3 linked regions of the Homo sapiens genome follow. The protein of the gene in region 2 purifies or fractionates together with the protein of the main gene of each other region. This does not show direct contact. Each region holds a gene or a part of one and is shown on either strand. Other genes may lie near its edges.

The links.
Region 1: the proteins of L3HYPDH (region 2) and POLR3C purify together in Homo sapiens (affinity purification with mass spectrometry; 2 studies listed by BioGRID and IntAct, with this or other methods). This does not show direct contact.
Region 3: the proteins of L3HYPDH (region 2) and NKIRAS2 purify together in Homo sapiens (affinity purification with mass spectrometry; 2 studies listed by BioGRID and IntAct, with this or other methods). This does not show direct contact.

Annotation. Positions count from the first base shown.
Region 1 is NC_000001.11:145,830,690-145,834,340, reverse strand, and holds part of POLR3C (DNA-directed RNA polymerase III subunit RPC3), read right to left. Parts: intron 1,082-3,651; coding exon 977-1,081; intron 868-976; exon of another isoform or gene 852-867; coding exon 759-851; intron 1-758. UniProt on the Homo sapiens protein: DNA-dependent RNA polymerase catalyzes the transcription of DNA into RNA using the four ribonucleoside triphosphates as substrates.
Region 2 is NC_000014.9:59,477,828-59,481,478, forward strand, and holds part of L3HYPDH (trans-3-hydroxy-L-proline dehydratase), read right to left. Parts: intron 1,525-3,651; coding exon 1,355-1,524; intron 1-1,354. UniProt on the Homo sapiens protein: Catalyzes the dehydration of trans-3-hydroxy-L-proline to Delta(1)-pyrroline-2-carboxylate (Pyr2C). May be required to degrade trans-3-hydroxy-L-proline from the diet and originating from the degradation of proteins such as collagen-IV that contain it.
Region 3 is NC_000017.11:42,018,473-42,022,223, forward strand, and holds the start of NKIRAS2 (NF-kappa-B inhibitor-interacting Ras-like protein 2), read left to right. Parts: upstream 1-1,617; 5' UTR 1,618-1,732; exon of another isoform or gene 1,733-1,797; intron 1,798-3,072; exon of another isoform or gene 3,073-3,091; 5' UTR 3,092-3,105; coding exon 3,106-3,199; intron 3,200-3,751. UniProt on the Homo sapiens protein: Atypical Ras-like protein that acts as a potent regulator of NF-kappa-B activity by preventing the degradation of NF-kappa-B inhibitor beta (NFKBIB) by most signals, explaining why NFKBIB is more resistant to degradation.

The sequences.
Region 1 (3,651 bases), on a different chromosome or scaffold from region 2:
CCATCACATTCACATTAATCTGCCATTCATTCACTAACTCCCACAGGGCAACTTTTAGTCCTGAAAGCTCCATTCATGTTAAGTGCACTAAACAGGTGTGGTTTTTAATTTTTCATACCATATTTTTACTGTACCTTTTCTGTGATTAGATGTTTAGATACACAGATGCTACTGCGTTACAACTGCCTACAGTATTCAGTACAGTAACATGCTGTACAGGTTTACAGCCTAGAAGCCATAGGCTATCCCGTTCAGTCTAGGTGTGCTGTAGGGCTACACCATCTAGGTTTGTGTTAAGTACACCCTATGATGTTCACACAATGATGAAATCACCTAACGACACATTTCTCAGAATGTATCCCTGCTGTTAAGTGATGCATGACTGTATTACTATGAAAGTAATATAAATAACACATATTGGATATATTAAATATCGATATTTTAAGTACAGGGGGTCAAATAATGTCCTGAATGCCAAGGCTCTCAGAGTCCAAATTGTGGATTCTTAAAATAATTAGGAATAGGCTGTACTTGACGAATAGATACTTTGACTAAGTGAATAGTGTAGATTTTTAAAAGCTGGATCCTAAGAGACCAAACATTTCAGTGCTCATCACTTGAAGATAATCCCTGCTCCACATCAAATGCCCTTCTCTTTCAAGGCTCAGACCTCAACCCAAACTCAGGATCTGTGTATAATAAACGTTGATAACACCCAAGAATCTGTCAGAAAGTTAGTGCAAGAACATGAAACTCACCTCATTGGAAGACAATGGCTGGGTGAAGGGAGCACTAGAGGAAGTGGTAATCTCACTCATTCGGAGCATGGTTCGCACAATCTCGCTGCTTGTCTGTTTGAAAAGTAAACTAGAATTCAGAAATCACAGTGCTGCCCCTGGCTCTATGTGCCAATGGCCATATCTGACAAATAAGTAAATGTCCCTGATGACCAATGACAGACCCACTTAGGTATTACCTGGTCCATCCTGTTAGCAACTGCGCTCACAATGGCTTGGTCACGGAAGTGTTGGTGGAATCTGTCAAGGTTGGCCTGCCAATAAATCCCATCATCTGGAATGGGCTGAGGAAAAGATTTAGAGAAACATTTAGCTATAGTGTAAAGTTTTCTGGTGAGGAGCTTGGATTTAATGGTTCACCATTTCTTTTCCTACACAGTAACAATTACATTGGTTGGAAAAAAATCATTCAGTCATGTAGACTGGTGTCTAGACAAATTCCGACTTCAAACAGGTTTTCTAAGCTCATCTCCAATCTTTCTCTCCCTATTTTATTATTTAACATTTATTTTAATTTTTTTCTGAGACGGAGTTTTGCTCGTCACCCAGGCTGGAGTGCAGTGGCATGATCTCGGCTCACTGCAACCTCTGCCTCTCGGGTTCAAGTGATTCTCCTGTCTCAGCCTACTGAGTAGTTGGGATTACAGGCAACCACCACTGCGCTAGGCTAATTTTTGTATTTTTAGTAGAGTTGGGGTTTTACAATGTTGGCCAGGCTGGTCTCGAACTCCTGACCTCAGGTGATCTGCCTGCCTCGGACTCCAAGTGCTGGGATTATAGGTGTGAGCCACCACATCCGGCCTTTCTCTCTCTATTTTAACTCTTCTCCATTACTTTCAAGTCTCCAACTTGACCCTTCTTCCTTCTCACTCTCGGCAGATGACTTTGCCTCTCATTTCACAGAGAAAATAGAAGACACTAGGCCAGAACTCACTCAGCTCTGTGCACATCCTCACCACATTTCTTTTTTGTTCTTGATTCATATTTTCACTCACTTTTATCACAGCTGAAAAATGCTCCTTTTACCTAAGGTTAATGCCCATATTGGTATTCCAAATCTTACTCTCTCATTCATTCTTGGGGATCCAGCTCTATTTTACCCTGTCCTCTAACATCTTCAGGCTTTCCTTCTCTACCGCCTTCTTATCAGCCTTTACCCTGTCCAAGTCTCTTTCTACTCTAGAATTCTCTTTCAACCCTATGCCTTCTCTTCTTTTCCTTAGTGTCACAGCCAAGCTTCTCAAACAGTTGGCCATCTCAGTTGTATCTCTACCTAGATTTACGCAACCCATTTCCACTATTGTACTGAAATGTCAATTGTCACTCGCATTCCAGTGAAATTCCACAACTGTCCTTAAGGATTCTATGTTGTTAAGTTCAAATAATAATTTCCACTTCTGATCTTATTTAACCTTTTGGAAGCATATGACATGGTTGGACATTTTTTCCTTCTTAAAACTTTATGTGGCTCCTTGGTTTTATGACACCATTTTTTTTTTCCTTTTAAAGACAGGGTCTTTGTCACCCAGGCTGGAGTGCAGTGGTGTGATTGTAGCTCACTGCAGCCTTGACCTCCCTGGGCTCAGGTGATCCTCTCATCTCAGCCTCCCAAGCAGCTGGGACCACAGGTGCGTGCCACCACGCTTGGGTAATTTTTGTATTTTTCTGTAGAGACGGTCTCACCATGTTGCTCAGGATGGTCTCAAATTCCTAGGCTCAAGCGATCTGCCCGCCTTGGCCTTCCAAAGTGTTAGGATTACAAGTGTGAGCCACTGGGCCTGGCCGACACCATTTTTTCTTGGCGTTACTTTGAACCTTTCTGGCTACCTTTCCTCAGTATCCACAGATTCCTCTTTCAGATCCCAACTGTAATCCTGGTGTTTTGTCAGGGTTCTGTCCATACCTTTCCTTTCTTTTTACTCTACATGCTCTACTTGGGTAATTTTATCTGCTCTCCAGGCTTCAACTATTGATGCATTTCCAAATCTGTTACTCTATCCTAGAACTCTCTCTTTTTTTTTTTTTTTTTGAGATGGAGTTTTGCTCTTTCGCCCAGGCTGGAGTGAAGTGGCACAATCTCCGCTCACTGCAACCTCTGCCCCCCAGGTTCAAGCGATTCTCCTGCCTCAGCTTCCCAAGTAGCTGGGATTACAGGCCTGCGCCACCATGCATGGCTAATTTTTGTATTTTTAGTAGAGACGGGGTTTCGCCATCTTGGCCAGGCTGGTCTCGAACTCCTGACCTCAGGTGATCCACCTGCCTCTGCCTCCCAAAGTGCTAGGATTACAGGCATTACCGCACCCGGCCTATCCTGGAACTCTCTATTATGCTCCAGATGCATAGACTCAGCTGCCTATTTGACACTTCCATTTGTTCCCCAAACTGTTCTGTTTTGTAAGTTTTCAGGTAACTACACTATAACCAACCCAATTTTTTTTTTTTTTTGAGACAGGGTCTTGCTCTGTTGCCCAGGCTGTAGTGCAGTGGCACCATCATGGCTCACTGAAGCCTTGACTTCCTGGGCTCAAGTGATCCTCCCACCTCAGCCCCTGAGTAGCTGGGACTACAAACATGTGCCACCAGGTCTGGTGTTTTTTTTTTTGGTACAGATGGGGTCTCACTATGTTGTCCAGGCTGGTCTCAAACTCCTGGGCTCAAGTGATTCTTCTACGTCAGCCTCCCAAAATGCTGGGATTACAGGCACGAGCCACTGTGCCTAGACAACCCAATTTCTTTTTTTTTTTTGAGATGGAGTCTTGCTCTGTCACCAAGGATGGAGTGCAGTGGCGTGATCTCAGCTCACTGCAACCCCTGCCTCCCAGGTTCAGGCCATTATCCTGCCGCAGCCTCCCAA
Region 2 (3,651 bases):
TTACACAAGTTACTTTTTACTACTAATAAATTCTCACATACTAAATTCTCACGTACTAAACATTCAAATACTGTACATGTGTTTTATTTATAGGTCCCAATTTCAAGGTAAAATGTGCTTCACTCGTGCTAGAAGTGAAAGAATATCCTAGAATTATTATCTAAACTGATTTTATCAAATTAGCTTTCCCAAGTAAAAACTAGAGTTATTTAAGTAGTTATTTGAGTAACTTCTTAGCAATGTAGGAAAAAAATAATAGGAATTAATGTTCTCTATGAAATAAGAAAAAGGCTTAAATCTATTCTGTACACTATATTTTACATTTATTATTTTCAAGTTTAACAGAATGACCACACACATGCATTTAAAATTTGCAGAATTCTATAAATATATTTCTACACATTTAAGGAACTATAAACTATATTAGTATGTATGTATTATTAAATTTAGTAACTGCTAGGTGTGGTGGCTCACACCTGTAATCCCAACACTTTGGGAGGCCGAGCTGGGAGAATCACTTGAGGCCAGGAGTTTGAGGCCATCCTGGGCAACATAGTGACATCCTGTCTCTATATAAACACACACACACACTCACACAAACACAGATTTAGCTGGGTGTGATGGGGCATGCCTGTGGTCCCAGTTACTCTGGAGGCTGAGGCAGAAGCATCATTTTGAGCCTGGGAATTTGAAGTTACAGTAAGCTATGATCACACCACTGCACTACAGCCTGGGTGACAGAGCAAGACCCTGTCTCAAAAAAAATAATATTATCATTTACTGAACATTTACTATTGGCCAGACACTACTCTAAGTCCTTTACATGTATTGACTTATTTCATTCTCACAACCCTACAAAGCAGGTATTTTTTAATTTCCATTTTGCAGACAGGAAAACTGAGGCATATGGAGGTTACGTAACTTGCCCAAGGTTATATACGTTACCAGTGGTAAAGCTAGAACTCATAGATAGTTTTGCTCTAGAGCAGGAATGTCCAATCTTTTGGCTTCTCTGGGCCACACTGGGAGAAGAATTGTCTTGGGCCACACATAAGATACACTAACACTAACGAGAGCTGATGAGCTAAAAAAAAATTGCAAAAAAACTCATAATGTTTTAAGAAAGTTTACAAAATTTGTGTTGGGCCACATTCAAAGCCATCCTGGGCTGCATGTGGCTCACAGGCCACGGGTGGGACAAGCTTGCTCTAGAGCCTAAGATTTTAATAAGTACCCTATTCTTAGTACTATTAATAATTTAAACATCATTTAATTTTCTTTATAGACATAATAATGTATATTTCCTCCATGCCACAGAGAAGGGAATTGGTTATGAAGGCAGAGTATTACTGACCTGAGCTTTCACTGCCTCTGTCACTGCACTCGCTGCATCCACAAGGTCCCTGGTCTTTGCAGAACAAATGTCTAGTCCTAACTTTTCAGCAGTAACAAATGCATAAAATGCACCGCCATATGCAATGTCCACCATCACCTTTCCATGTCCAGGAACATCCACCATGAGATCTAAAAAAAAGATGTGTTTGGAAAGAAGATGTGTTTGTTAATAAGTATTTTAGCAATAAAATTCAAAGGATTTTTAATATGTTTATTTTTCAAGAGGGATGTTCTTTTCCTATCATAAAAATAATGAAGTAAAAATCCGTTTTTTAAATGAATAAGCATCGAGTGAATAATAGCTAGATGCATCATTCTATTTTTAACTTGATGATTGCAGAAGTTATAAACTAAAGCCATGCTTTCCCTAACTCATACAGACATATTCATTAACTTCCCTGAGGATCTTTTCTAGGAAACACCCCTGAGGCCGAGAGAGGGAAACCCAAGGGCATCCCTGTGAACACTAAGAAGGAAAATGTCTATTCCCCACTTGTACTATGAGAGATGGTTTAAAATAGTGAGGGTCTTGGATCCTATTTACAAATCAATTTTCTTCAGCCGTAATGTCAAAACATAAATTTTAATAAAAGATTTTTCTATATAAATTATATACACTTATCTACATGTTTTCATCTCCTTAAGGTATCCTGCAGGCAAACACAGAAAAATGCCATTGTAGAATCATTGACTGCTACAGCATCATTTTGCACCAGGGTTTTTATTTGAGCATTTTAAGTCTCAACATCCCCAAAGTTTCACCTGAAGGTCAGTAGTTTGAAATCTTGAATCTGTATTTCCAAAGAAAGGGGGCTGGGTGATGTTTATTTCGCCCCTTCTCAAATTTTCCTCTTCCCTAATTTAAGCTAGCTTGGTGATCACTGCCTTTTAGGGAAGCCTATGGCAGGGGAGAAAGCTTGTCTTTCATGTTTTTATTTTAGGGAAGCCTAAGCTCTCAGGGGAAAGACATCTGTTGGCAAAGGAGTGTCCTGAAGGGAGAAATATTTCTCCTAGAGATAAATTTTTTCTCCCTTGAGAAGAGTGGAGGCTGAAGGTCCTTAGTGCAGAGAGGACGTGTGTTAACTTCCCCCAGGGCACCACAGGAGCAGGAGTGAAGAAACAGAGGATGGGGAGGCAGTGCAGAGGGCAAGGACCAGGTAGGGTGGGGCAGCCAATGCTCCTGCTCCACTTTGCTGGTTAACTGTGTAAGCTGAGGACTGAAGTGCCATCCTCTCCAAGGCCACAGCACTTTTAAGAAACCTTTGCTCACACATATCAGGAAAGGGGACAACACATGGAGTGATGAGGCTAAGTGAACCAAAAGGACAGAGTAGAGTTTCAGCTTCAGAAATTAAGTTTTGGGAAAGAAAATATATCTTGTGTTCCTGAGTTTTCATACAAGGTCATACAAAGATATCAGTATGCTATCAGTCCACAGAAGGCTATCAGTATGCTATTAGTCCACACTAGTCCACAGAAGCCCTTTTAACCCATGATGTGTTAAAACAGAGCAAGTTTATAATCAAAAGAGTAAAACATGCTGTGGATTGTAACAACAAAACTGAATAAAAAATGTCTTTATCTTGATGCTGGCGCAACATGAAAAGCAAGTTTAATGAAAAGAGAATGGGCAAGTTGATAGAAATGAGGGACTGCTGGAAGGTGGAAAGCTAAAGTGAGGGTGAAGATCAGCACTTACCAGGAGACACAGGTGACGGTCCCAGGGTTCAGTCGGCCTGCCCTCTTCCCTTGATTGTAACAACTAAATGGGGCATTGGCCACCAATCCCGGGACCAGGATGAAATTGGGAAGCTGGTTCAGGAGAAGTCATCCCTGAGCCTACAATCATTTCCCTGGCCCAACCTTTCTAGAATCTTGGGTCTGGTTTTCTTAGGGTGGGCAGTTGGGTAGGGTGCTACACCTCACTGAGTTTCAGTTTCCTTTTCTTTAAAATGGACCAAATTTCCTTTAAAGTTACTCTTGTCCACCAATTATCTGTGACTATTTCATTTTTTAATCACTAAATTACTAACATTAAAAATTAAGATATTTATTTCACCCATGAGTACTTCCTATGTGGCAGGTCTTTACATACACTAGCCCCTTAATTCATTACATTAGTGCCTTAATTACTACAGCCCTGAGAGGTAGGTACTGTTTTACTTACTATCTTTACATTATTCCCTGGTTTACCCACTAAATAAGTGGCAGAGCTTGGGGTCAAACCCAGGACCAGGTGACTCCAAAGCCCAAACC
Region 3 (3,751 bases), on a different chromosome or scaffold from region 2:
CATACTCTGCCTATCCCAGTGTGGAGGGAGCTGAAACCACAGCGACCACTGAGTAGGGAGGGATAGGACAAGCTCACTAGGTTGGAAAGGAGGGGTCATTCGTTGAGCCAATCACTCAGCCCTTTCCAAAACGCCTACTCTGTGCTAGGTTGTGAGGGCACAAGACTTACAGACCACCTGCCCTGCCTGCCAGTGGCTCATAGTCCAGTCTAATGCTAGCCAACCTGTCTCACCATCTTCCCACTTTATGTTCTATCTAAGGCAACTCATTTATTCCCACAGCTTTACTTCCATCTGTTGATGACTCTCAACTTTTCATATCTCCAACCTAGACCTTTCTTCAGCTTCCACAGCTGTATATCCAACTATCTACTGGATATCTCTTGTATGTTTCACAAATCCCCAAGGCTTACCATATTTAAATTTAACTTTTTCATTGTCTACCCACACCTCAACAACAGAAAAAACAAATGTTGGATGTAATTATTATCTTTCCTAAATTCCGTATCTTGTTAAATGGATTAAACCATTCTCACTCTTGGCTTCCAATTTGTTGCCAAGTTTTGTTGATTCTCCTACCAAATATTTCCCAAATCTATCTCCACCTTTCCATCCCGATTCAGGCGCTCATCATTTTTTAAAATCTTGGAATAGGCTGGGTGTGGTGGCATGCATCTGTAGTCCCAGCTATTTGGGAGGCTGAGGCAGGAGGATCACTTGAGCCCAGGAGTTAGAGGCTGCAGTGAGCTATGATCACACCAATGTACTCCAGCATGGAGAAAAGAGCAAGACCCTGTCTCAAAAACGGCAACAACAACAACAACAAAACAACAGAAAAAAAAACTTGGAATACATCAATAGTCTCCTAATCGGTCTCTAATTTCATCTCTGTTCAGTCTTCCCTCTTCTGCCAGAGTGACCTTCCTCAGGGACTGATCATGTCTCTTCATTGGCAATGGCTTTCCATTGCCGTCAATTTGATCTCTTTGGCCTACCACACAAAGCCTTTGATTATCTGTTTCTTTTTTTAAATAATTTAATTTGAGTACCAATATTTAGGTCCTTTCTACCACCAATATTGAACCCAAGTTCTCATAGTTTCAGAAAATGCCATGACTTGTAGCCGTTTCCTCCACCCTAGAACACCCTTTCCCCCAGGCCCTTCAGTGTCTGCTGACTCAACGTTAAATGCCCTTTTGCTGTGCTCCACAGCACCTCAGTAGTTGTTAGACATCTAGCTTCTCTAGACCGTGAGTTCTGATGGGCAGCCACCATGTCTAACTCGTCCACTTTCTCTCAGTATATGGCCCTGCACCAGGCACAGACAGATGATGCTCAGAAAACATTTGACGAATAAATGATTGAGTAAACGAAGAGTTACTGTACTCTGATCGCCTTTACAGAGAGAACATCTGGGCCTCAGAGACACCAGAACACCCAGCGGCCCGCGTCCAGGGAGTCTAGAACCTTGGGCTCCCGCGCACACCCAGGCCAGGTCCTGGCCGTCATTCTCCCGCCGGCCTCTGGGGGAGCTGCGCGGTCCGCGCTCTCTCTCCGCTGCCGGAATTCGTCTTGCCTGACGGAAGCTGGGGAGCGGGCAGGCGGCGGGGGCGGGGCCTGGAGGAGCCTACACCGACTCTGGAGGAAGACTGGAGCCTTTGCGGCGGCGCTGCCCCTCCCCTGGTCCCCGCGAGCTCGGAGGGCCCGGCTGGTGCTGCGGGGGCCCCGGGAGGTACGGACCTGGGAGGCGAGGCTCGTCCGGCGCTAGGATCGGCCTCCGCCTCCGGGCCGCTTTAGGTGGCTGGTCTCTGCCTCTCATTCCCTCTGGGGGCTCCCCCGTGAGAAAATCTGTGGCGGAGGCACCTCTGGCCCACTCTTATGGTGTCCTTTATTGTGGGGCTCGCTATATGGAGAGGGGGTCTGTGTCAGGAGCTTCCCCTGGAGAGGTTTCTGTTAGGGACCGTCTTTGGGAGTGATCTATCTCTGCTCTCTGGGGGGGATCTTTGTCTGGAGCTTTTGGGGGGCTTGTGTTTGGAAGTTTGCCTTCGGGGAGATATCTGTCTGGGACCTCTTAGGGTTTCTGTATCTGAGCTTTCTCTTTTGTGTCTGTCAGTCCAAGGGCAGCAAAAAGTATGTCCTTTCTGAAGCCTTTTTTTCCGTAGGTTTCTTCATTCTTTTCTCTCTTGTCTTATGTTCATTTTAGCCATAGACTTGACTGGAGTTTAGAGGGAATTGATTGTTGTCCAGATGAGTCGTACAGGAAAGCAGATTGTCTTTTTTTGAGACGGAGTCTTGCTCTGCCGCCCAGGCTGGAGTGCAGTGGCATATTCTTGGCTCACTGCAATCTCCGCCTCCTGGATTCAAGCGATTCTCCTGCCTCAGCCTCTCAAGTAGCTGGGATTACAGGCACCCGCCACCACGCCTGACTAATTTTTTGTATGTTTAGTAGAGATGAGGTTTCACTATGTTGGCCAGTCTGGTCTCGAACTCCTGACTTTGTGATCTGCCCACCTCGGCCTCCCGAAGTGCTGAGATTACAGGCGTGAGCCACCGTGCCCTGCCCCAGATTATCCTTTTTATTTGCTCAGTCCCCCCAGGGAGCAGATGGCTTCAGACAGCCACACAAAACACTGTTCCTGCTTAATTCTCCATGGGGTCATGGTTAAAGAGAGGAAGCTGGGCTGAGCTCCCTTTACTAATTGGTCCTCTACATCTTGCGCACAGAAGGGAACCTGGCCCAGTGGCCAGTGACTCTCCTCTCCCTTTATGGCAGCATTTCCAAGCACCTGCCCTGTGACAGATACTGGCTAGGTACTGGGGATAACAAAGACGAATAAAATAACAGCTTACCATCCAGTAGTAGACATGGAGACATCCGTTTCCTCTGACTAGCATTGGGATGGTGCTGAAACCCTGGAACTATACATTCAGTTTAGAACTATACATTCAGTTTAGAACTCTCAGTTATGGACGTTCTGCCTTCTGTTTTTTTGGTTTTTGTTTTTGTCCACCAGAAAACATCTGCTAGTAACTGCCTTCTGTGTTGATGCTTTCTTTCCTCACCTTACCCAGCGTGCTTCTGTTCTTCAAGGTTGAAAACTAAGCATGGGGAAGAGCTGCAAGGTGGTCGTGTGTGGCCAGGCGTCTGTGGGCAAAACTTCAATCCTGGAGCAGCTTCTGTATGGGAACCATGTAGTGGGTGAGTGTTGTTGGAGGGGGAGGAACAGTGGAAGAAGTTGAAAAATAAGGAATAGGACTTGATCACAACACACACAGGCTAAAAGCTGCTCCTGGTGGTTTTCCCCCCTGGAAGAATAAAACTTACATTGTAACAGATCAACTCTACAACACTGAACAAATACGGAGGGAGAAAGCCCTATGTCCAAGATAGGAAAGAGAAGCTGTCATGTCACACTTGTGCTTAGCATGGAATTAGCATAAAATTAATGTCCATTGGCCGGGTGCGGTGGATCACGCCTGTAATCCGAGCACTTTGGGAGGCTGAGGCGGGTGGATCACCTCAGGTCGGGAGTTCGAGACCAGCCTAACGAACTTGGAGAAACCCTGTCTCTACTAAAAATACAAAATTAGCCGGGTGTGGTGGCACATGCCTGTAATCCCAGCTATTCGGGAGGCCGAGGCAGGAGAATCGCTTGAACTCGGGAGGTGGAGGTTGCGGTGAGCCGAGATTGCGCCATTGCACTCCAGCCTGGGCAACGAGAGCAAAACTCCGTCTCAAAAAAAGAAAGAA